Linked DNA regions of Homo sapiens. The protein of the gene in region 2 interacts with the protein of the main gene of each other region in a biochemical or structural test. Each region holds a gene or a part of one and is shown on either strand. Other genes may lie near its edges. The genes, in order: PRIMPOL, USP36 and NOP58.

Region 1 (7,864 bases), on a different chromosome or scaffold from region 2:
GTCTCAAACTCCTGACCTCAAGTGATCTGCCCGCCTTGGCCTCCCAAAGTGCTGGGATTACAGGTGTGAGCCACCGCACCCAGCCGATAACACACTTGTATACGCACATTTTAAAGACTAAAGTGACCACCTGTTGTATCTGCCGCCCACCTTAACAACCAGAAGCTGATCAAACCTCAGAAGCACCTGTGGGCCCAACCCCAATTTCCTTCTCTCCCTGGCCCTCAGAGATGGTAGCCAGTATCCCGATTTTGTGTTCATCTTTTCCTCGCTTTTATGATTTCTCCCATATACGTTCATATCTCTAAACAATATACTGTTTTCTTTTTCTTTTCTTTTGTTTTTTGAGACAGAGTTTTGCTCTTGTCGCCCAGGCTGGGGTGCAATCGCACGATCTCGGCTCACTGCAACCTCTGTCTCCCGGGTTCAAGCAATTCTCCGGCCTCAGCCTCCCGAGTAGCTGGGATTACAGGCATGCGCCACCATGCCCAGCTAATTTTTTGTATTTTTAGTAGAGACGGGGTTTCTGCATGTTGGTCTGGCTGGTCTCGAACTCCCGACCTCAGGTGATCTGCCTGCCTTGGCTTCCCAAAGTGCTGGGATTACAGGCATGAGCCACCGTGCCCGGCCATAAACAATATAGTGTTTTCTTTTGCTTGTTTTCGAATCGCATCCTCTCCCTTGCCTTGCGGTAGCATATCTGTGATTTTCACCCACGTTGCAGTATGTAGCTGTTGCTTATTTGTGTCACTATTGTGCAGCATGCCATGTGTATAAATATAAATAGGCCACAGTTTATCTGTTTTCCCACAGTGGACATTTGGGTTGCTATTATAAACCGTGAAGGTGGGAACCGTGTTGTACATATCACCTAGTATACATGTGCTAGAGTTTCTCAAAGTGGACTTGCTGTGTCGTGGAATATGCACATAATTAATTTTACTAGATCATAAATTGTTTTCCCAAATGGGTGTGCCAGTTTATAGTCCTGCCAGCAGTGTTTTGAGATTTTTCTACTGTTCCATATTCTCACCAACACTTTAGTATTGTTAGGATTAAAAAATTGGTTTTGCTCATCTGGCAGATGTAAAACAATATTGTAGTTTTCTTGGGAATTTCCCTGATTACTAATGAAGTTGAGGATGGATAATCAAATTACATCCACACAGATCAGAAATCTTGCCCAGTGTCAAGCTTTACTAATAATGTAGGAATACAAGGAATGAAAAGGCACAAATGGGGCAGAGTGAGGCCCGGGGCATCTGGCCCGGCTCCCCTGGCCCTTCCTGCTCTTTCTGACTCAGGAGGAAACCCGAGGCAGGCGTGAGCAATCCATGCACACAGCAGGAAGCACCGAGGTTGTGAATCACCTGCATTTTACACTCAAGTTGCACAGCTGGGTGACATTTCCGGAAAGCATGCCTCATAATGCATTGATTCTAGACTTTTTACCAAATGCAGTTCTAAAGTCAGAAACGTCCTACGAAGAGCATTCTGTAGGTAAGGACTGAACTCCTAGCGTTTGGTCCAGACGTTCCCCGATTTTCTTGGTTCATGGTTCCCCTGGTGTCTTTGTTTCTTCACATTTTCTCTGAGGCTGACAGAAATACCCGAGCTCTGGTAATGAATTTCAAACAACTTGGTAAGTGTTTATGTCCGAACAGTTTAGTAGCAGTTTGAATAATAGTATCCATAAACTAAAAAAAAAAGCCACTTTTCATTCTTAAATACAATTACTTATTAATGGGATGTATACTCTCCATTTTTTCATTTTTTTGAGACAGGGTCTCGCCCTGTCGCCCAGGCTTGAGTGCAGTGTGATGGCCCAGGCTTGAGGACAGAGTGCAGGAGCTCACTGCAGCCTTGATCTCCTGGGCTTGAGCGATCTTCCTGCTTCAGCCTCTCACGTAGTTTAGACTACAGGTGTGCCACCATGGCTGGTTAATTTTTAAATTTTTTGTAGGTGGGATCTCCCTCTCTTGCCCAGGTTGGCCTTGAACTCCAGCCTTCAAGCTATCCTCCCACCTCAGCCTCCCAAAATGCTGGAATTACAGGTGTGAACCACCTCACCAGGCCTATGTATGCACTCTTAAACCCTGGAATCAGATTAGACCCCACCCTCCCCAACTCATACCTTGTTCTCCATTGATGTTAATGGTGCTTTTTTTTTTTTTTTTTTTTTTTTGAGATGGAGTCTTGCTCTGTCACCCAGGCTGAAGTGCAGTGGTGCAATCTCGGCTCACTGCAACCTCTGCCTCCTGGCTTCAAGCAATTCTCCTGCCTCAGCCCCCCGAGTAGCTGGGATTACAGGTGCCCACCGCCACGCCTGGCTAATTTTTGTTGTATTTTTATTAGAGATGCGGTTTCACCATGTTGGCCAGGCTGGTCTCGAACTCCTGACCTTGTGATCCACCCACCTCGGCCTCCCAAAGTGCTGGGATTACAGGCGCGAGCCACCATGCCCGGCCTGATGTTAATGGTGCTTTCTATTACAACCACACCCCAAAGCCCAGCTCTACAAAGATGGAGCATGAATGAAAGGAATGAAGTCACATGTGAACTGCAGGCAAGGAGTTTTCAGATTGCTCAAGAAATGTCAAGTATCACTGTGTTTTCTAGCAGTATTTCAATATCCTGCAGTGCCCGGGGCACCTTCCTGTACAGTTTGGGAGCCACAGCATTATTAGCTCATTAATTGGGAGGCCTGTTACTAGAATGTTTAAGGGAAGATTAGACTAAGTCACCTGCCTTTTTTTGCTCCTGGGTGCAGGTCCCTTACCACCTCCCCATCCCACACCTCACCTACTGCCATGGGGAGTGTTAACCATCTTATTTCCTTTTCTGTAAAATGTGGGAACATTTTCAACTATTTAATCAAATCTTTAAGAATTTTAGTGATTATAGGATTGTTTAGGTTTTCTGTTGCTTTTTAAGTTTGCTTAGTTTATTTTTATGTAGTACTTTATTTTACAAAAACTTTCAAAGTTACTGGCAAAAGTTGTTCACAATATTGTTTTCTTAAAAACATATGATGCATTTAATTTCTAATAACATTTGTGTCTTTGCCTTATTTTTAAATCAATTTTACCCTAATTTCATTTTCTTCAAATGTAGGCCTCGTTGATTCTTTTTACTTTTGTCTCTTTATGACTGCCTGCCTTTTATTTATTTATTTACTTATTTATTTATTTAGAGACAGAGTCTCACACTGTCACCCGGGCTGGAGAGCAGTGGCACCAGCTTGGCTCACTGCAACCTCCGCCTCCCAGGTTCAAGTGATTCTCCTGCCTCAGCCTCCCAAGTAGCTGGGATTACAGGTGCCCCCCACCACGCCCAGCTAATTTTTGTATTTTCAGTATAGACGGGGTTTCACTATGTTGGCCAGGCTGGTCTCTTTATTCAGTTCGTTGTTTTCCACGTTAGTCACTTAATCCATGTATCTTTAGCTATTCTTCTTTCATAACACAAGATTTTAAGACTATAAATTACCCTCTAAAGGTGACTTTAGCTGCATTTCACATATTTTAATATGTACACTTCCAGTCCACTCAGGTCTAAGCGTTTTCTAATTTCCACTATTTTTCCTTGAACCATTGGTTGTTTCAAGTTGTTCTTAATTTCCAAATTATGGATTTCTATTAGTTTTATTTCTAAAATTTGCTTTATGCTCAGATGTGTTCTGTATGAAGTGATGATTTTAAATTTGATAAAATTCACTTTATAGCTAGCATGGAATTGGTTTTATAAAGAACTGCTTCATATTTACCTATTAGATCAAACTTCTTAATTGCTTTTTGTCATTCATTTTTTCTGTATCCTTATTGGACCTTTTTTGTGGTTATCCTTTGATCTATAAATTACTGAGAGTATGTTTTTTAAAAACCTTGATTTATGGTAGATTTGTTTATCATTGTGGTCCTGTCCATTTTTGCTCACATATTTTGCAGCTGTATTATTTGGTGAGTACAGGTTGAGAATTGTTACATCTTCCTGGGGGAACTTTCATCAGTATCTACTTTTTGCCCTGCAGTTCATTTTGTGTGATTTTTGGCAACCACCGTTTTGATTGGTATGTATCTATCCTTATCCTTTTACTTTTTAATTTTTCTCCATCTTTAAGTCTTAGGCATATTTCTTGGAACAGCATGCAGCTGGATTTTGTTTTCTACCCAGTCTTGGTATTAATACTTTTTTTTTTTTTTTAAACATAAAGGATTCTGGTTGATCTGAAAAATGAAGTTTGGTATCAAAAATGTCATGACCCTGTATGTAAAGCAGAAAACTTCAAATCTGACTGTAAGTTACTAATTTTTACATTTACCACAAAGTAAAAATTAGATAACTGTAATATGTAATAGTTTTGCTATCTTTCTGATTCAGGTTTCCCATTACCTGCTGAAGTATGTCTCCTGTTTCTTTTCAAAGAGGTAAGTACAGATTTTAGTGTCTTTCTCCTTACCAGGGAGTTCTTGGTACAATAGTATACCTGAGCCATGAGTAGTGTCCAAATAGCATTGAAACCCATTTGCTACCTTGTTTTCACTTATGACTGTATTATAGGAATATATTGTAGTGATTTTCCCATTTCAGCACATATCTGATAATACAAACCTTTTTTTTTTTTTTTTACTGCTGCTTGAGGTGTACAGTTTAATCAGTCCCAGACATTTAAGAAGTTTCCCATATTTTGCTTTTCAAAGTAACAAAATACCCATCTTTGTATTTCTTTGAACATCTGTATCTGTAGGATGAATTTCTAGAAGTAGAATTGTGTCAAAGGGCATATTCAGTTTTAATTTTGGTAGGTATTACCAGGTTGTCAAACCAACATTTTTCTCTTAAAGATTTTTTATTTACCCAAATAATTAACGTGCATTGTAGAATGAATTGAAAATACATAAAATTAGGTCAGGCACAGTGGCTCAGGCCTGTAATCCCAGCACTTTGAGAGGCTGAGGCAGGCAGATCACTTGAGGTCATGAGTTTGAGACCGGCCTGGCCAACATGGAGAAACCCCATCTCTACTAAAAACACAAAAATTAGCCAGGTGTGGTGGCCTATGCCTATAATCCCAGCTACTCAGGAGGCTGAGGCAGGAGAATCCCTTGAACCTGGGAGGTGGAGGTTGCAGTGAGCTGATATCACGCCATTACACTCCAGCCTGGGAGACAGAGCGACTCTGCCTCAAAAAAAAAAAAAAAAAAAAAAGAAAGAAAATACATAAAATTAGGAAATACACAAGAAGCAAAGAGGAAAGAATCTTCCTTACTCATTTGACCAGAAATAAATGATACACGTTTTGGCACGTACCTTCGAGAATTTATGTATGCTCATTTTCTTTTTTTTTGAAGTGATAGCACACATACTATTTCAGTTTTTTTTCTAAAGTATCACAAATATTTTTAGTACCTATTATCAAATTGCTCTCCATAAAAAGTATAGGATATTAGACCTCCACAGATAATTTATGAGAGCACCTATTACCTCACACTTTGCCAGCAGTGCTTGTTTACCTCGAATCACTACCAATCTGGTAGGCAAAATGCAGTACCTCAGTTGTTTTAATTTGCATCTCTGTAATGAACTTTTTTCGGATTCACTATTAGTATTTCTATAATGAAGTGCCTGTACCTGTCCTCTGTCCATTTTTCTGTAACTTTTTTGCAGTAATTAAGTACTGTTTTTGACGTATTTCACTTTTAAATTGTAGTTTGTGTTTTGTTTTTTGTCACATCTGTCAGCTTTCTCCTCTATAGTGTTAATAGAATAAAAGAAGTTACCTGCTACAAGCAGAACAGGTGATGGGGTTTATATTCTAGAAAACTCAGTCTTAACACGTCTCTCGAAAAAACTCCATATGTTTGAAATGGTGGAAATTCCATTCTTGGTCTGCAAGAACTGGACATAAAATAACTGATAGCCAGATTCTCTGGCAAAATACCAGGTTAAAATGTGTTTTGAAATAACCAAGAACAAAGTAAATTTTAAAAAATAAACTGTCTCCAAGAGGAGGAGGATTGCATCGCCCTTGTTAGTCTGGATTGTGATTTAGATATTCGTGGTTGCAGTGGATTTTTAAGCTACTTTTTCCGCTTATCTAGTAACACCTCAAAAATGCCAAGTTGAAAGTACCATTGGTCAGTATTACCACTACTTGGACATAACTTTTTAAAGTAAGATATATAATGAACACCCATGTAGCTGTCACTTAGTTTTCAGTTAACATTTTGCCTCTCCTGCTTCATCTTGTTTTTTAAAACAAATATTTTAAATTACCAGTTGGTGTTATTTATACCTGCTTTTCTATTGCACTGATATTTCATTGGTCACTTGATTTTAAATTTACTATAAAGGCCTAACCTACAGAAATGTACAAGAATAAGGAACTCTGCTGTCTGTCCTCTATTGAGATCTGCCATTTGTTAACACTTGGCCACATTGGTTTTCTCCCTCTACTGTATACATACGCATTATTTTTGATGACTCTCTTAAACTGCAGACATCAAAACCCTTCATCTAATATTTAAGCACGTAGCGGAAAGAATAAGACATTCTGTAGCTTTTTTAATGACAGGGGGGTATCATGTTGCCCGGGCTGGTCTCAAACTCCTGGCCTCAAGCAGTCCTCCCGTCTCAGCCTCCCCAGTAGCTGGGATTACAGGCACGTGCCACTGCACTGAATAAGGACATTCTTTACATAAATAATGTATTGGGCGGATCAACTAAATGTCTATACTGAAGACATTCTATGGTAAAATAATTGATACAATACTATTATGTAATATACAATCCAGTCATATTTTGGCAACTGTTTTTAATCTTTTTTCAATCCATGTTTACGATTTGCTAAATACTTTAAAATTTAAAGCATGGGTACTAAGTCCATTGTCAAGATAGCAAATTTATCTTCTGATTTGTCTTCAGCTGGACTGTCCACTTGTTAAAAAATTAAATCCACCCTTGCTCTTCCGTCGGGGAGTATTGAAAAGTATGTGCACAGAACTGTAGGTAATTTCAAATTTGGAGTTTCAAGTGTGTCTGAGCTTCAGTGCAGCAACGTTTGAATCAGTGCACTCATTCCCACGGTGAGATATCGGAGACAGCATTCCTCCTGCATATTCACTTTAGTATCTGTCACTTAATACCTTACTTCAACATAGAGTATAAGGTTAAATCACATATCCTGAGTAAATATTTTCCTATCCCACTCTCTATCCCTTCACCACTGAAATAAAGGAAGAAGAGTTTACAACAGATGAAGCAGATGAAACTAGGAGCAATGAAACCCAGAATCCTCATAAACCATCACCTAGCAGGCTGTCAACAGGTGCATCTGCTGATGCTGTCTGGGATAATGGCATTGATGATGCTTATTTTTTAGAAGCTACTGAAGATGCTGAATTAGCTGAAGCTGCAGAGAACAGTCTTCTCAGTTATAACAGTGAAGTGGATGAAATTCCTGATGAACTAATTATAGAAGTATTACAAGAGTAACTAATTCACTATGAACACTTTTGTCACCAGGCTATAATTTGCCTGATGTCTGTGAGATTTGATAAATATATCATTCAACCTGTTTATATAAACTAAGTTTTATTACTTTGCTTTCCAATTTTTGTTTTTTACTTCTGTAAACCAATTTCATTAAAAATTAGCTTTGGTGTAAATTCAGGAGAAATCGCCTTATTAATTAATCAAAATTATGTTCACATCAACTTAATTTTACAAGTTTATTATAGCTCATACCTGGGACCGATTAAGGTGTCAACATTTTAAAATTACTCAAGATATTAACCAGAAAAGATGATTATGGCCTTTAAAACTATTGGACAAACTGATGCTATTTAACATTGTTCACAGCCAT
Region 2 (7,864 bases):
GGGGAGCAGGAGCGCACAGACACCCGCCTGCAACATGGAGAAGGTGCCACCCCAGCTGTGACCCAGTGCACGCAGGTCCCTGCAACATTCTTCCCCCCACACGCATTAGCGGACGCTCCACACGCAGCCACGGAGACAGTAGAGGGAAAACCAGTCGCGTTTCCCATCCTAACTGAGCCAAGCCTGTTGACGCCAATGTGCAGGCTACTGTGACCTGATGAAACGGCAGATCCTGGCCTGGCCCGGGACACCTGATCCAGCATCCTTGAACGGCCCTGCACATACAATGATGGACACTACTGTCCACACCACTGTCGCTTCAAGGATCAATCCACTGGTATTTATCAGAGGAGATATTTTTTCTTTTTTCTTTTTTTTTAGACAGGGTTTAGCTGTCACCCAGGCTGTAGTGCAGTGACGCGATCTCAGCTCACTGCAACCTCCACCTCCTGGGCTCAAACCATCCTCCCACCTCAGCCTCCTGAGTAGCTGGGACTATAGGTGCATGCCACCATGCCCAACCAATTTTTGTTTTTGGTAGAGAAAGGGCTTTTCCATATTGCCTAGGCTGGTCTCAAACTCCTGGGTTGAAGTGATCCACCCGCCTCAGCCTCCCAAAGTGCTAGGATTACAGGTGTGAGCCACCACACCCAGCCAGAGGAGACATCTGATCACAAATCCACATTTTAGAAAACCACGCAAGCAGACTACGTTTCCAGACCATACCTACTTGGGGGTAGATTCTGTGGTTTTGCTTTGTTTCTCGTCAGAGGTAGACAGATGCCACTTTGCTCCTGCCCTTACCTGTGCCGAAGTGGGTCCTGGTGCAGGCCGCCTTCTTCACCAAGACCTTCTGCTCCTTTCCTCCTCCGCTTCCTGCTGCTCGCGTGGTGGCCGTCCGTAACACATCCCACCTGCTGGCCATTCACCTGTGGCTGTGTGCCATCTTCCTGCCGTCTGACAGCGGGCAGCTGTGCCTGGCCCTCCCTCCTGTACATGGGGCTCCCAGGCTGTCTCTGTGTCTGCCCCTCCTGCAGGGCGCTGGCAGCTGTGTCCTCCGGGCGCTTCTTCTTCTTCCTCTTCCTCTTCCCGTGGGGAGCCGCAGTGGCCTCCCTGATGTGCTGTGGGAGGCGCGTCTCTGAGCCCAGCCTCTGCGGCTCTCCCACAAAGGTCTTTTTCCTCTTCTCAGAGGGGCTCTGGGGGGGCTCACTGGCCTCTGGCAACTGGTGTGGAAGAGACACAAGGTCCTCGTTGACCTGAGGCAGCGCCGTCGAGATGGAGGAGCAGCTCCGTGGTTCTGACGTCCCTGGGGGCTTGGGGGTACTGGACAGCAATGTGGGGTGGGGGCTGAAGGGGGGTTGCAGGCGGCTGGATGATTGGGGAGCAGGTGACACAGCCCTGTGGGGACAGCCAGGAAACAGGGAGAGGATGTTCTGAAAGACCCAGCAGAGCTGTTCCTTCTGTCTACCCTCACTCCCCTCCCTTTCACCTAAAAATCTGAAAAGGCTTTTACCCTGTAGTTTTCAGATACACATTAAGTTACATGTATGTTTGAAAGAAAGCTAACAATTAATTCAACATCTATTTAAATGCAAAGTTGGCCAGGTACAGTGGCTCATGCCTATAATTCCAGCACTTTGGGAAGCCAAGGTGGCTGGATCACCTGAGGTCAGAAGTTTGAGACCAGCCTAGCCAACATGGTGAAACCCCATCTCTACTAAAAATACAAAATTAGCCGGGCGTGGTGGCACACGCCTGTAATCTCAGCTAGTCAGGAGACTGAGGCAGGAGAATCGCTTGAACCTGGGAGGTGGAGGTTGCAGTGAGCCGAATCGCGCCACTGCACTCCAGCCTGGGCGACAAAGCAAGACTCCGTCTCAAAAAAAAAAAAAACCAAAAAAACAAAAACAAAAACAAAAAAAAAAAAACAAAGTTACCTAGGTGGTGGGTTGATAGGTGCAGCAAACCACCATGGCACCTCTGTAACAAACCTTTACATCCTGCACATGTACCCTGGAACTTAAAATAACTGATCCCTGAGATTTAAAAAAAAAAAAAAAAAAAAAAAAAAAAGCAAGCCAACACGTGATTTTAAAAGTCAAAAAAAAAATTTTTTTTTTTTTAAAAGGCAAAGTTAATAAGAATTGTTCCATGCCTTAGTTTCTTGTCACCAAGCAATTCAAGTATTTTTGCGAGCTCTAATGTAAAAACATCTTTAATACAAATGTGTTAAGGGAGGAAACCTTCACGAAACAATAAATGGTAAGGAAAAAAAAGATCCCGTGAGGATTTATTTTCCAACCTCCGAAAGTCTCAGGGTGTTCCCGGGCAGGAAATGAGCCTCATAAGGAAAGCAAGTGTTGAGCTGGCCTAATGACACCTCCACATTACCGTCATTAGGACGCTGAAACCGGGACACAGATGCGTAGAGCAGAATCATGAGCAAGGCGTGTCCGGGACAGGATCTAGTGCCGAACCCAGTGAGGCTCCCTCTTGCCAGCTATGTGTCTCTAGGAAAATTAACTTCCCACTCTGAACCACCATGTTCTCATTTGTCAATGAGCTGGGACCACAAAGCCCACCTCCCAGGGTTCCTGCAGAAAACAGGACCCCCGTCATCATCTAAACAAACTATAAGGGCCATGCCAGCTGCACGATGTTTGATTACTCTAAGTGTCTTCTGGAATCTTTTCCAAAAAAGCTTATAAGGCAAGAAACGAAAAACACCCAAACACTTAAGGCCCTCCCACGTACACAAATCTTATGCTAGGTATAGGGCAGAGGTGTGCTTGTGTGTGTATATGTGAGAGGAGAGTAAGGCAGAGGCTGTGGGCGACGCACAGTCATACCTCGCCCTCATGTAGCACTGGAGATTCTAGAACTAGAACCCAGCGCCGAGGCCACCAGTACAGTCCCCGCAGGCCGCCTCATGACTCACCCCATCTTTCACTGCTTCCGTCCCCACTCCCAGCGGCTTCCAGACAGCCATTTACCAGTTACTCTCAACTTCCTGCCACTCGAGGCACCTAAGAGACGCAGGCAGCCCCTGCGGACCAGGGCCCACATGCACAGGGAAGGGGCTGCATCTCTGGCAGGTGTCTGCAGAGGAACCCGAGAGCCCTGAGACAGTTCTTAACCTGCATGACGCTAGCAGGCAAGACGTCCCACAAAAAACGCTCGGGACTCCGAGCTCACTCAAGCCTCTCGCCAAGGCCTCACTTCGCCTTTCTCTTCGACTGGGAAGTACTGTCATGGGGCTGGTAGGGATACAGGACAGGTCAGTCCCCAGCACACCACATCACCACAAGGATGTCGCAGACAGACCACCAACAAAGACAGAACTAAGACATCAGGACTGCAGAGGCCGAACTGCCTTCACCACCCAAAGCTCCTTTACCACAGGGGAACACAGAAGAGGGGGATCTTGGTCAGTGACGCCCCCCTGTACCTCCTGGCTGCCCCAATGCTTTGTCTGTCCTGTGAGGTTGGCGATTCGTCCAACTCCTCACCAGCCAAGCACACGCAACCACAGGGAGAACCAGTTGGCACCCAGAAGATCCCGGCCCAAAGCTTACCTGGCTCTATGGACGGGCCAAGTGGAGGCAACGACGGGGTGAGAGGTTTTCATGGGGTGGGTGAGGTCGGAGGATGGTGAGGGGGGAGGTGGACGGAGGTCATTGCCGGTCGCCCTCCACAGGGTGCTGGCCTGCAGTTATCGACATAAATAAAAACTTGGTGGTCTAAAAAAGGTTTCCGTGAGTGAAGAGGGAAAACAAAAGTAACAAAAAATGAAAATAAAAACAAAAGAGCCCAGAAAAAAAGATGAGGAGACAGAAGAAGACAAAAAGGGGAGGTGAGGGGCAGGGGAATGGTAGAAGAAGAACCAGAAAAGTATTTTTGGTTAGAAACAAAAAAAAGGAAGAAAATTTAAACAAAAATCTCAGCACAACAATCACATCCACGTGCCGTGGCTGCCCAAGCTTCCTGCTGCAGAGGTGCCGGGCACCCCACTGGGGCTCTGCGCTTCCTGCCCGCCCCACCCCTGCTAGGGACACGTGCTGGTGGGGCCCACCCTCCCTCGGGTTCAGTCAGGATCTTCCACCTACTGTGAAAACAGGGAACTGCTACCTTGCCCAAACCTCCATGAGTCACATGAGCATCACCAGATCAGGGCTCTCTCAACACCCCATACTGCCTTCACCCCAAGATAGCCGTTCTTTAATTGCAAATGGCTGGGAACGACTAAAAGACACTTTGTTCCTCTAACATGAGGGAGGCCAAAGCCCCCGGACAATGTTCTCACTCCCTTCAAACCACAACCAAGCAACTCTTGGAGCTCTCCTGATACACAGCAGCGGCGAGACCCCCACACACCCACCTTCTTGGCAGAAAGGGCCAGTTTTTTGGCTGGTGGAGGAGACATGGTGCTTGCAGGCTCAGTGGTGGTGTTGCTCAGGACAGGGGACTTCAGCTTCACCGTCTTAGAATCTGCTCCACTTGGCGGCGTTTTGGAGTGGCCAGCGGTGGAACAGTTCGTTTCCTGAGAATCGCAGAGATGGGCCGCTCCACTCCTGGGGGTCTGGGGGGCCTTGGTGGAGTCGCTGCTGGCCGAGTGCTCTGGGCTGGAGCTGCTGGAGCCCCTCCTGTCGAGGCCAGCGCTCTCGTCGTTCCCCTTCAGCCCATGCCCGTTGGCAGTGGCTGTAGCCAGGAGCTTAGGTGAGGTAGAGAGGACAACATCCCTGCTGTCCCAGGAGCCCTGCCTTTGGCTCCCAGATCTGCTGCTATTCGAGTTGCTGGTCCCAGGCAGCCCCTGAGCAGTTCTGGGGGAAAAGTGCTGTGGAGGAGCTGGCTTCTTCACCTTCTTTCCAGGGTCGTCTAGGATGGTTGGCATGTGTGTGGGTGTCTGGGAGAGTTTGGGGGAAGGGGACCCCGAGGGCAGCTTTGGAGGAATGCAGCCGTTCTGGGACTTCAGGCCCAGGGTGGAGCCATTCCTGGATATGGGCACACCAATCTCTTCAGTGGTGTGCGGCTTCTTCATCGTCCCAGAGTCTTGTCGCTAAGGAGACCAAAGCAGAAAACACAACTGAGGAAGCGAGAAGTCTCAGCTGGGCCACATCTTCTTAAGGCCACAGTGAATCTTAGTAGCAGGCATGGCCTCTGATTAGCATGCTCAAGATAAATTATTTATCTGGACTCTTGGTAAAGACACTGTGGCTTCTCTGAACAATTCTGGTGTTCTGTGACATCCCAAGAACAGGGACCACAGCCGTGTACCACCACACCTGGCTAATTTCTGTATTTTTGACAGAGATGGGGTTTCACCATGTTGGCCAGGCTGGTCTCAAACTTCTGGCCTCGAGCAGTCCACCTGCCTCAGCCTCCAGAAGTGTTGGGATTACAGGTGTGAGCCATAGCACCTGGCCTGAATACATATCTTTATGGCCACCTTTACTATAAAACCAGTACATTTTCATCAAGATTTGGGAAGAGAAAAAAGTATAAAGGAAGAAATTTAGCAAAGTTCCATCACCTAAACATAACCATGCATTAACATTCTAGTGCTTTCTTTTTTCAATCTTTTCTTCCAAATGGTTCTGGCCTGAAGAGTTGCATCCCAGTTTTATCTTAAAGCTATTATCTCAAGCATTTTTATGGGCGATAACTCTCAATAAATATCTTTAAGACAGAGCCTTGCTCTGTTGCCCAGGCTGGAGTGCAGTGGCATGATGATGTCATCATAACTCACTGCAGCCTCAACCTTCTGGGCTCAAGAGATCCTCCCACTTCAGCTGCCCAACTGGCTAGGACTATAGGAGTAGACCACCACACCCGAATAATTATTACTATTTTGTAGAGATGGGGATCTTGCTATGTTGCCCCGGCTAGCCTTGAATTCCTGAGCTCAAGCAATCCTCCCACCCTGGCCTCTCAAAGTGCTGGGATTACAGGCCTGAGCAACTGCACCCTGCCTGTCGGCCTGTCTTTGACATTTTACTATATATACTATGTACTACTGATACACATTAACTGTATGGTTAATTTATATAAGCTATATTGTCTCCAACTGTTGAAATTAAAAATACTGTACAGTATATGTGTGTGTATCCTTTACCCTTCAGAGCACTTATTACAACTGCATAGAAATAACTTATTATTCTGTATTTAGATGCTGAATGTCAGCCTTCCCCTGCTTGACCAAGAGGCTGTACCCGTTATCTCTCTCGTTCCCACTGCAGCCCTCACCAGCAACTCAAGGGTCTGGTATAGAGTCGGTGCTTAAAAAATATTTGTTGAGCTTTTCCTGTACTTAGTACTCCATGCTAATTTTCTGGAAATGGAATTACAAGGCTAATTTTCTGGAAATGAAATTACAGATTTCATTTTCATGAAATCTGATGCAAAATGCCAAACTGCTTTTACTATACTCCAGCCACATCTATTTTTCAAAACATTTGCTAATTTGACACTCGTTTGGGCTATTACCACTTTAACATTCATATTCTCTGCACATGCACTAAAGTGATCTTCATTTGAATGAGATCTTTTGTTTACAAATGTTAACCTTTTGTTGACAATATTTTACAAGGTTTTATTGCTTCATTTGTTTGTAGTAAATTATGTACAAAAATGTAAATCTTAGTCAATTCATAATTCTTCTACATTTTATCCTTCAACTTTAAGCATACAAAGTCTTCTTCCCTTCCCAGAGGTTAAGAATTTACCTCTATTTTCTTCCAAGTTTTGTTTTGTTCCCTACATTCTATTCTTTGTTAATACTGTTTTCTAAAAGGAATTCATCTTTCCACTGCACCGCAAAGCCGTTTCACTGGCTGAACATTTCCATACACACTAGAACTTGCACCATGTCATTTAGAGTAAAACGGCTCGTCTGCTTGCAGTGTATTTGGAAAATCACGTTTGTAATGAAAATGCTCATGGTCAGTGAAGCGCCCCTGCAGGTGTGCCTGACACAGGGACTCTCCTTGAGCCAATCTCCACCCTCGGGCATCACTCTGCCCATGGAGTTCCTGTGGCAAGTGGGGCTTCCTTTGTTTTTCTGGGGTTTTTTGAGACAGGGTCTCATTCTGTTGTCCAGGCTGGAGCGCAGTGGCACAATGATAGCTCAATGCAGCCTTGTGTTTAAGTGATCCTCCTGCCTCAACCTCCAAACAGCTGGGACAACAGACGTGCACCACCACACCTGGCTAATTTTTGCACTTTTTTTGGAGATGGGGTTTTGGAGATGGGGGTCTTTCTATGTTGCCCAGGCTGCTTCCTTTTTTTGAGATGGAGTCCCGCTCTGTCACCCAGGCTGGAGTGCAGTGGCACAATCTCAGCTCACTGCAACCTCCACCTCCCGGGTTCAAGCGATTCTCCTACCTCGGCCTCTCGAATAGCTGGGATTACAGGCGCACGCCACCATGCCCAGCTAACTTTTGTATTTTTAGTAGAGACAGGGTCTCACCATATTGGCAAGCTGGTCTCAAACTCCTGACCTCAAATGGTCCACCCACCTCAGCCTCCCAAAGTGCCCGGCCCCCCTCTTCTTTTTTTTGTAGACAAGGTCTCACTCTGTCACCTTGCCTGGAATTCACCAGCGTGATCATGGCTCACTGCATACAGCCTCAACCTCCCGGGTTCAAGTGATCCTCCCCCAACAGCTTACTGAATATTCTCTGTGCTGATGGGATCTATGTTGCCCAGGCTACTTTTTAAATTTGTTTTGAGACAGGGTCTTGCTCTGTTGCCCAGGCTGGTGTGGAGTGGTATGATCATGACTCACTCCAGCCTTAATCTCCCTGGCTCAAGTGATCCTCCCACCTCAGCCTCCTGAGTAGCTGGGAATACAGGCACGTGCCATTAA
Region 3 (8,690 bases), on a different chromosome or scaffold from region 2:
ATGGTGAAACCCTGTCTCTACAAAAACACAAAAATTAGCCAAGCATAATGGTGTGTGTCTGTAATCCCAGCTACTCTGGAGGCTGAGGCGGGAGAATTGCCTGAATCCGGGAGGTGGAAGTTCCAGTGAGCCAAGATCACACCATTGCACCCCAGCCCGTCTAAAAAGAAAAAAAAGAAAATACAGCACTGTACGCGGCAGGTCAGTGATTGTGTGATAGAAACAATTTCCATGTCCATCTTCTGGGTACTCCTAAAGGAAACTATGAGGAAGATTGTATGATTTTGCATTACTTAACTTCTCTGAGAAGGAAAACAAGAGTAATAATAAGTAGAGAGATTTTTACATGTTTCTTTCACTGCTGTGTCTCTAGTGCCTGTAAGAATGCCTGGCACAGGCGGGCGTGGTAATCCCTGTAATCCCAGCACTTTGGGAGGCTGAGGTGGGCGGATCACCTGAGGTAGGGAGTTCGAGACCACCCTGATCAACATGGAGAAACCCCGTCTCTACTAAAAATAAAAAATTAGCTCGGTGTGGCGGCCTGTAATCCCAGCTCTCAGGAGGCTGACGCAGGAGAATTGATTGAACCCAGGAGGCAGAGGTTGCGGTGAGCCGGAGATCGCGCCATTGCACTCCAGCCTGGGCAACAAGAGCGAAACTCCATCTCAAAAAAAAAAAAAAAAAAAAGAATGCCTGGCACAGGCTGGGTGCAGTGGCTCACGCCTGTAATCCAGCACTTTGGGAGGCCGAGGTGGGTGGATCACGAGGTCAGGAGTTTGAGACCAGCCTGACCAACATGGTGAAACCCCGTCTCTACTAAAAATGCAAAAATTAGCCGGGTGTGGAAGTGCGCACCTGTATAGTCCCAGCTACTCAGGAGGCTAAGGCAGGAGAATTCCTGAACCCGGGAGGTGGAGGTTGCAGTGAGTGCTGAAATCCTACCATTGCACTCCAGCCTGGGCAACAGAGTGAGACTCCATCTCAAAAAAAAAAAAAAAAAAAGAATGCCTGGCACAGAGTAGACACTCAAATATTTGTTGAATACATAAAAGATATTCACCACCCAGAACATCCCCTTCTTGTTACCAGGCACATGGAAGGTGTCTGACCAAAATGGTGTCTTTGGCTAATCTCATTAGGTTCCAAAAAGTCCCTGGAGGCTCTACTAGCACCTTGAAATTATCCCACCATTCACTCATTCCATTCATCCATTCATTTACTTAGTTACTAGTCATGTTTATGGAATCTCTACTACGTGCCAGATACTAGCCTAGTACTTGCAGATTTTGCAACTAACTTTTATAGAGTTTATATTCTAGTTGGAACAGGGGTGGAGTTGGGGTGTACAGAGAGGACAGACGAACCATGTTTCTCATCCTTGTTATTTCACCATGTTAGCCACCAGTAAAATTGTAAGCCCTGGCCGGGCGCAGTTGTTCACACCTGTAATCCCAGCACTGTGGGAGGCCAAGGTGGGCAGATCATCTGAGGCCAGGAGTTCGAGACCAGCCTGACCAACATGGAGAAACCCTGTCTCTACTAAAAATACAAAATTAGCTGGGCGTGGTGGCACATACCTGTAATCCCAGCTACTCGGAAGGCTAAGGCAGAAGAATCGCTTGAACCCGGGAAGCAGGGGTTGCGGTGAGCTGAGATCATGCCATTGCACTCCAGCCTGGGCAACAAGAGCGAAACTCTGTCTCAAAAAAAAAAAAAAATTGTAAGCCCTTCTATCATCTGTACTCTCCTATATTCTCCTTCTTATATTTCTTTGTGCTATCTCCCCTTCACTCAGTACTTTAACAAAGTACTAAGACTCTTACTTCTCCCTTGCAAGAGAAAATCTCCAATTACTGGCCGGGAGCAGTGGCTCATGCCTGTAATCCCAGCACTTTGGGAGGCCGAGGTGGGTGGATCATGAGGTCAGGAGTTCAAGACCAGCCTGGCCAACATGGTGAAACCCCATCTCTACTAAAAATACAAAAATTAGCAGGGTGTGGTGGCAGGGGCCTATAATCCCAGCTACCCAGGAGGCAGAGGCAGAAAATTGCTTGAACCCAAGAGACAGAGGTTGCAGTGAGCCAAGATCATGCCACTACACTCCAGCCTGGGCAGCAGAGCAAGACTGCATCTCAAAAAAAAAAAAAAGAAAGAAAGAAAATCTCCAATTACTTTATTTGGTCAAGTTACAAACCCAAAATCAGAGTCAGCTCTGAACTCCTGATTAAAGCATCATATGGAGGTGACTATGTAAATGGTAACGTGCAAGGACAAATTCTAGGACATACCATGGCAAAGAGATTTCTCATTGAATAAGTGGTTTCATTTCATTTTGGGAATAGGATTTAAGGCTTTACACGTAAAGAAAAGAATTTTTACTTCCTGCAGACATTCATTCATTAAATTTTTAAGAATTAATTAGATTCTATTTCATGAGTAGCACAACATAACATCCTATACAGACACAAATATGTGTAAAGTAGACTCAATTCTCTAGCAGATGTCACTTCTGCTAAGGAGACTAGACAGAAAAATACTGTGCAGTTAAATAACACTATAAACAGACATGGTGTTTCTAACATCTCACCCACCCACGCATACCCCTCTCCCAATCAGGTAATTTTCGTCTCTCTTGTCTCCCTGACCACACTGGATTACAGCTGTAACTATAATCAACCATGCTTTTTTTCTTTTTTGAGACAGGGTCTTGCTTAGTAGCCCAGGCTGGAGTGTAATGGTGAGATCATAGCAGGCGTGAACCATACACTCGGCCAATTATGCTCTTGAATTCACCCTAGGCCGGGCGTGGTAGCTCATGCCTGTAATCCCAGCACTTCGGGGGGCTGAGGCAGGCGGATCACCTGAGGTCAGGAGTTCAAGACCAGCCTGGCCAACATGGGGAAACCCCGTCTCTACTAAAAATACAAAAACTAGTTGGGCATGGTGGCGTGTGTCTGTAATCCCAGCTACTGGGGAGGCTGAGGCAGGAGAATCACTTGAGCCCAAGAGGCAGAGGCTTCAGTGAGCTGAGATCGTGACTGAGATCGCGACACTGCGCTCCAGCCCTGGCGACAGACTGAGACTCCGTTTCAAAAAAAAAAAAAAAAAAAGAATTCACCCTAGATTCCTCTGTCCTGTGACTTTCTGTTATTCAACCCAGGATTTTCTTTCCTCTTAATCTCAGGTTGCAGAGTTGCTACCTATTTAATGTTCCACAATCTTGAGCAGGTTGCAATTTTTTTTTTTAGATGGAGTCTCGCTGTGTCGCCTAGGCTGGAGTGCAGTAGTGCCACCTCGGCTCACTGCACCCTCCGCCTCCTGGGTTCAAGCAATTCTCCCAGCAGGTTGCAATTTAATGATTAGGAACAATCTGCATATAGGGCCTGGGAAGTGAGTAAGGAAATTTTACCCCTGTTGGAAGACAGACTTGTGAAACAACTGGGGTATTTAATCCCAGTCCCTGAGACTGAAAGGCTTCCAGAAAAGCAAGTAACACTAAATCAAGAAGACAGTCTAAATTCAGCCCCGCACAGTGGCTCATGCCTGTAATCCCAGCACTTTGGGAAGCCGAGGTGGGTGGATCACCTGAGGTCAGGAGTTCGAGACAAGCCTGACCATCATGGAGGAACCCCATCTCTACTAAAAATACAAAATTAGCCAGGCGTGGTGGTACATGCCTGTAATCCCAGCTACTCGGGAGGCTGAGGCAGGAGAATTGCTTGAACCCGGGAGGCAGAGGTTGCAGTAAGCAGAGATCATACCACTGCACTCCAGCCTAGGCAACAAGAGTGAAACTCCGTCTCAAAAAAAACAAAGAAGAAAAAGAAAAAAAAAAAGACATTCTAAATTCATACCCTGGGGTCATTTTAACAAATGCAGCAAAAATAGGAGAGGCTTATTGAAAGAAAACTGTGCTAATAATTCATTTGGCCAGACAGAAGGGAACGGCCAGGAATGCTCACAAATATAGTGACAGTAATGGTGTCATTCTGAGGCCTTCGCCTCAAGGCAGGGCTTGAAAGGGGATAAAGTCTAATGGCACTAGCTGGCATTTCAAATTCTAGATGCCTGAGGCAGACTGGCACCGAAACAGCTCCTCGTTTCTCTCAAAGTGAACATATAATTCATAGAGGGTTAACAAAATAATATCGTGAAGTTTTTCCCCTTTAAATCTCTAGCGGTGGCGGGGCGCGGTGGCTCACGCCTGTAATCCCAGCACTTTGGGAGGCCGAGGTGGGAGGATCCCTTGAGGTCAAGAGTCCGAGACCAGCCTGGGCAACATCGTGAAACCCTGTCTCTACAAAAAATTAGCTGGGTGTGGTGGCACAGGCCTGTAGTCCCAGCTGCTCCGGAGGGTGAAGTGGGAGGATCGCTTGAGCCTGGGAGTTGGAGGTTGCAGTGAGCCGTGATAGTGCCACTGCACTCCAGCTTGGGCAACAGCCAGACTGTCTCAAAAAAAAAAAAAAAAAAAAAAAAAAAAAAAAAAAAGGCCGGGCCTAGTGGGTCACGCCTGTAATCCCAGCACTTTGGGAGGCCGAGGCGGGCGTATCACGAGGTCAAGAGATCGAGACTATCCTGGCCAACATGCTGAAACCCCATCTCTACTAAAAATACAAAAATTAGCTGGGCGTGGTGGTGTGTGCCTCTAGTCCCAGCTACTGGGGAGGCTGAGGCAGGAGAATTTCTTTTTTTTTTTTTTTTTTTGAGACGGAGTCTCGCTCTGTCGCCCAGGCTGGAGTGCAGTGGCAGGATCTTGGTTCACTGCAAGCTCCGCCCCCTGGGTTCAGGCCATTCTCCTGCCTCAGCCTCCCGAGTAGCTGGGACTACAGGCGCCTGCAACCACACCCGGCTAATTTTTTGTATTTTTAGTAGAGACGGAGTTTCACCGTGTTAGCCAGGATGGTCTCGATCGATCTCCTGACCTTGTGATCCGCCCGCCTCGGCCTCCCAAAGTGCTGGGATTACAGGCGTGAGCCACTGCGCCCGGCTAGGAGAATTTCTTGAACCCGGGAGGCGGAGGTTGCAGTAAGCCGAGATCACACCACTGCACTCCAGCCTGGGTTACAGAGCGAGACTCCGTCTCCAAAAAAGAAAAAAAGAAAAAAGAAAAAAAGGCGCAAAGGCTCCGTTCAGGCCCTAGATCCCGCGATACAAACTTTCTCGGCCCGCCCCAGCCCGCTGTGGCGGGAACATTCTGGAAGTGACGGCAATCTCTGCGGCAGTCTTCTGTCGGAAGTGACGTTGCTATCCCAGAATCCTCAGAGAAGGAGTAGCGCGTTCGTGCGTCCTAGTTCCAGTACAGCGTGGAGGGTTTAGGCAGCGTGTTCTGATTCTTTGCGGGACGGCGAGCGCATTTGTGCTTTGCCCGCCGCGGCCTAGGAGGCCTTTTGAGGCCGCGTAGTCGGTGTTTTTGAACTGACTCTACAGCTTCTGGCAGGCCGTGCGGCGCCCTGACCCGGCCTCACCATGTTGGTGCTGTTTGAAACGTCTGTGGGTTACGCCATCTTTAAGGTAGGTGGGAGAGCGAGCCGTTAAAGGGGGAAGGCGGATGCTGGACAGACGAGGAGAGGGAAAGACTTAAGCACGGAACTACTCAGAGTAGCGTGGGTGCCTGTTATAGCCCGGGCTCTGGGAGGAGGGAGAAGGCCTTTACACCTGAGAGCCATGTTACGTGTAACACGTGGCCCCGCCGTTTGGGGAGACCCGTTCTGCATTAGAGGATTTTATTTCCTCCCGTTGAAGGGGTGGGCAGGAGGCGTGTTAGAATTTAACAGATTATAGGGAATTCGGACTTTATTCTAGATGTTTTGAGGAATGATCGAAAGATTTTTTTTTTTTTTGAGATGGAGTTTCGCTCTTGTTGCCCATGCTGGAGTGCAGTGGCGCAATCTTGGCTCACTGCAACCTCCGTCTCCCGGGTTCAAGCGATTCTCCTGCCTTGGCCTCCCGAGTAGCTGGGATTACAGGCCTCCATCCACCACCACGCCTGGCTAGTTGTTTTTGTTTGTTTGTTTGCTTTTAGTAGAGACGGGGTTTCACCATGTTGGCCAGGCTGGTCTTGAACTCCTGACCTCAAGCGATCCACCTGCCTCGGCCTCCCAAAGTGCTGGGATTACAGGCGTGAGCCACCGTGCTCGGCCAATCGAAAGGATTTAAGCAGAGGAATGACCTGCTAATTTGTCTTAATACGGTTACTCTGCTGTGTGGAGATTAGACTCGAGGAGATAAGAACGGCAGCAAGAATACTTTTGCATTCATTTGGACAAGATGAAATTGCCTGGTATGGAGAGAAACAAATATCGATAGAAATTGTGAAGGTAGAACAGGAAGGACTGGCTAATAGATTGAATGTGGGGTTTTGGTTTAAATAAGATGTTAAGAAAGTTTCTTGGGGAAGGACTAAAGATTTCCGGTTTGGGCTGTGCGAAGCTTGCGTTGTCTATTAGACCTGATAATGCAGTTGTGTAGATCGGGCAGTTCAGTATTTCAGATTTGAAGCTTAGGGGAAAACATCTGGGCTGGTGATGTCAGTTTGAGGTTTGGTTGTTTTCGTGGGGAAAGTTTGACAAGTTCGTCAGCACTGAAATGGTTGAATGGTAAGACATTCGTATCGCAAGATGCTGTTGAGATGTTAGGAAGAATGAGTGAGATTGAGTGCCTTTTCTTGTGCGGTGCAACTCTTCTGAGGTCTGTGAATATAGCAATGAAAAATAAAGTTTTTATGTATATTCTACATATATATATGTTGGTAGAAAGCAAAAACGCTAGGTAAAAATAAATGTAATACAATTTTAGCTATGAACCAAAAAACCATTTGTGGTGTGGATGCAAGAAAGTCTGGATGGGTGCAGAGTTCTCCATGTTTCACTTCTGACATTTGAAAATACGCAGTTTGCATTTGATACGTCAAATGTTATTTTTAAGAAAACCAATAAAATCATTAAAACCGAAAAGGCAGTTTTGCTTGTTTTTACCTTAGTTGGAGTTATCTGCAATTGCCGTATTAGTGTTTTAAGGAACTTGTAAGTAAGCTCCTTAGTCCCCTTTAGAGCTACGAAACATGTCAATTTTACTTTTCTCCAGCTTTTTGGAATCTTATCTAAATTACCATGTAGAGTTCTGCATAGCTTCAAATTCTCTTAGCCAATGTGGTCTGTAAGTGTCTATCGATGAATTTCACCGTTAATTGCCGTAGTATACTGTCCTGTACCGGATGTGAAGAGGAGCAACTCTGCACAGTGCACTGGTTGTCTCCCATGGTAGGAAGGAATTGGCTTATCAATGGTCGGATTTCTAGACCTGGGTCCTAAAATACTCAACCGTGTCTCGATGAATTACTGATTTCTATTAATGAAAAGTGTCCTCCTCCATGAAAATGTCTTTGAGTATTCCGTTGGAGTTTGCAGTGCTATTTATCTGCAAGTTACTGTTCAAAATGATTAAATTGTGGTTTATGTAACCTAGTACTAAAGAAATAACTAGTTAAGCTCGAATATGTTGACATTGATTAGTTTGTAATTATTGGAATTAACATTGATCGTTTCTGAGTATAAAAGACATACAAACGTTCTGGAACTAGTGATGGCTGCACATTTTTGTGAAAATGCACTACTAAAAAGTGAATTGTACACTTTAAAAGGGCAAATATTAAGATACATGTAAAATTAATATGATATATGGTGAATTTTATCTCCTAAAAAAGTAGACATACGGTTCAAAGTTATTAGTTTCCTTTCCCATAATCTTTCAAAATGCTAGGGTATAAAATTATGTTGGTTGCCAGGCATGGTGGCTCATGCCTGTAATCCCAGCACTTTGGGAGGCCGAGGCCGGCGGATCACAAGGTCAGGAGTTTGAGACCAGCCTAACCAACATGGTGAAACCCCGTCTCTACTAAAAAAATAGAAAAATTAGCTGGGCGTGGTGGTGTGCGCCTGTAATCTCAGCTACTTGGGAGGCTGAGGCGGGAGCATTGCTTGAACCCGGGAGGCGGAGGTTGTGGTGAGCTGAGATCGTGCCATTGCACTCCAGCCTGGGCAATAAGAGCACAACTCCGTCTCAAAAAAAAAAATTATATTGGATGCATATAATTCATGCTTTGATGAGAATGCTTTAGGAAGTTTTTTGAAGTTTTTTGTTTTTTTGTTTTTTTTGAGACGGAGTTTCACTCTTGTTGCCCAGGCTGGAGTGCAATGGCGCGATCTTGGCTCACCACAACCTCTGCCTCCCAGGATCAAGCAATTCTCCTGCCTCAGCCTCCCGAGTAGCTGGGATTACCAGCATGCACCACCACGCCCAGCTAATTTTGTATGTTTAGTAGTGACAGGGTTTCTCCATGTTGAGGCTGGTCTCGAACTCCTGACCTCAGGTGATCTGCCCGCCTCAGCCTCCCAAAGTGCTGGGATTACAGGCGTGAGCCACTGCACCTGGCCTTGAAGTTTTTTTTAAACTTCCATTTACAGTGAGGAAAACATTTTATGTATAACCCATGTACACATACAAATTCATGTTTATGTATTTAAAATTTATTTTGAGGCAGGGTCTTGCTCTGTCACCCAGGCTGGGGTGCAGTGGCAGGATCATGGCTCATTGCAGCCTTGGCCTCCTGGGTCAAGTGATCCTCCCACCTCCTCCCGAGTAGCTGGGACTACAGGCTCAAGCCACCATGCCTGGCTAATTATTTATTTATT

Evidence for each region.
Region 1: of the proteins of USP36 (region 2) and PRIMPOL, one has a biochemical effect on the other in vitro, tested with the Homo sapiens proteins (one study listed by BioGRID).
Region 3: of the proteins of USP36 (region 2) and NOP58, one has a biochemical effect on the other in vitro, tested with the Homo sapiens proteins (one study listed by BioGRID).

What each region holds. Positions count from the first base shown.
Region 1 is NC_000004.12:184,687,286-184,695,149, forward strand, and holds the end of PRIMPOL (DNA-directed primase/polymerase protein), read left to right. Parts: intron 1-4,030; coding exon of another isoform or gene 4,031-4,069; intron 4,070-4,213; coding exon 4,214-4,296; intron 4,297-4,380; coding exon 4,381-4,427; intron 4,428-6,799; exon of another isoform or gene 6,800-6,924; coding exon of another isoform or gene 6,925-7,008; exon of another isoform or gene 7,009-7,236; coding exon 7,237-7,494; 3' UTR 7,495-7,667; downstream 7,668-7,864. UniProt on the Homo sapiens protein: DNA primase and DNA polymerase required to tolerate replication-stalling lesions by bypassing them.
Region 2 is NC_000017.11:78,802,581-78,810,444, forward strand, and holds part of USP36 (ubiquitin carboxyl-terminal hydrolase 36), read right to left. Parts: intron 5,057-7,864; coding exon 4,379-5,056; intron 3,741-4,378; coding exon of another isoform or gene 3,707-3,740; coding exon 3,576-3,706; intron 1,399-3,575; coding exon 805-1,398; intron 276-804; coding exon of another isoform or gene 1-275. UniProt on the Homo sapiens protein: Deubiquitinase essential for the regulation of nucleolar structure and function. Required for cell and organism viability.
Region 3 is NC_000002.12:202,260,476-202,269,165, forward strand, and holds the start of NOP58 (nucleolar protein 58), read left to right. Parts: upstream 1-5,287; 5' UTR 5,288-5,466; coding exon 5,467-5,511; intron 5,512-8,690. UniProt on the Homo sapiens protein: Required for the biogenesis of box C/D snoRNAs such as U3, U8 and U14 snoRNAs. Part of the small subunit (SSU) processome, first precursor of the small eukaryotic ribosomal subunit.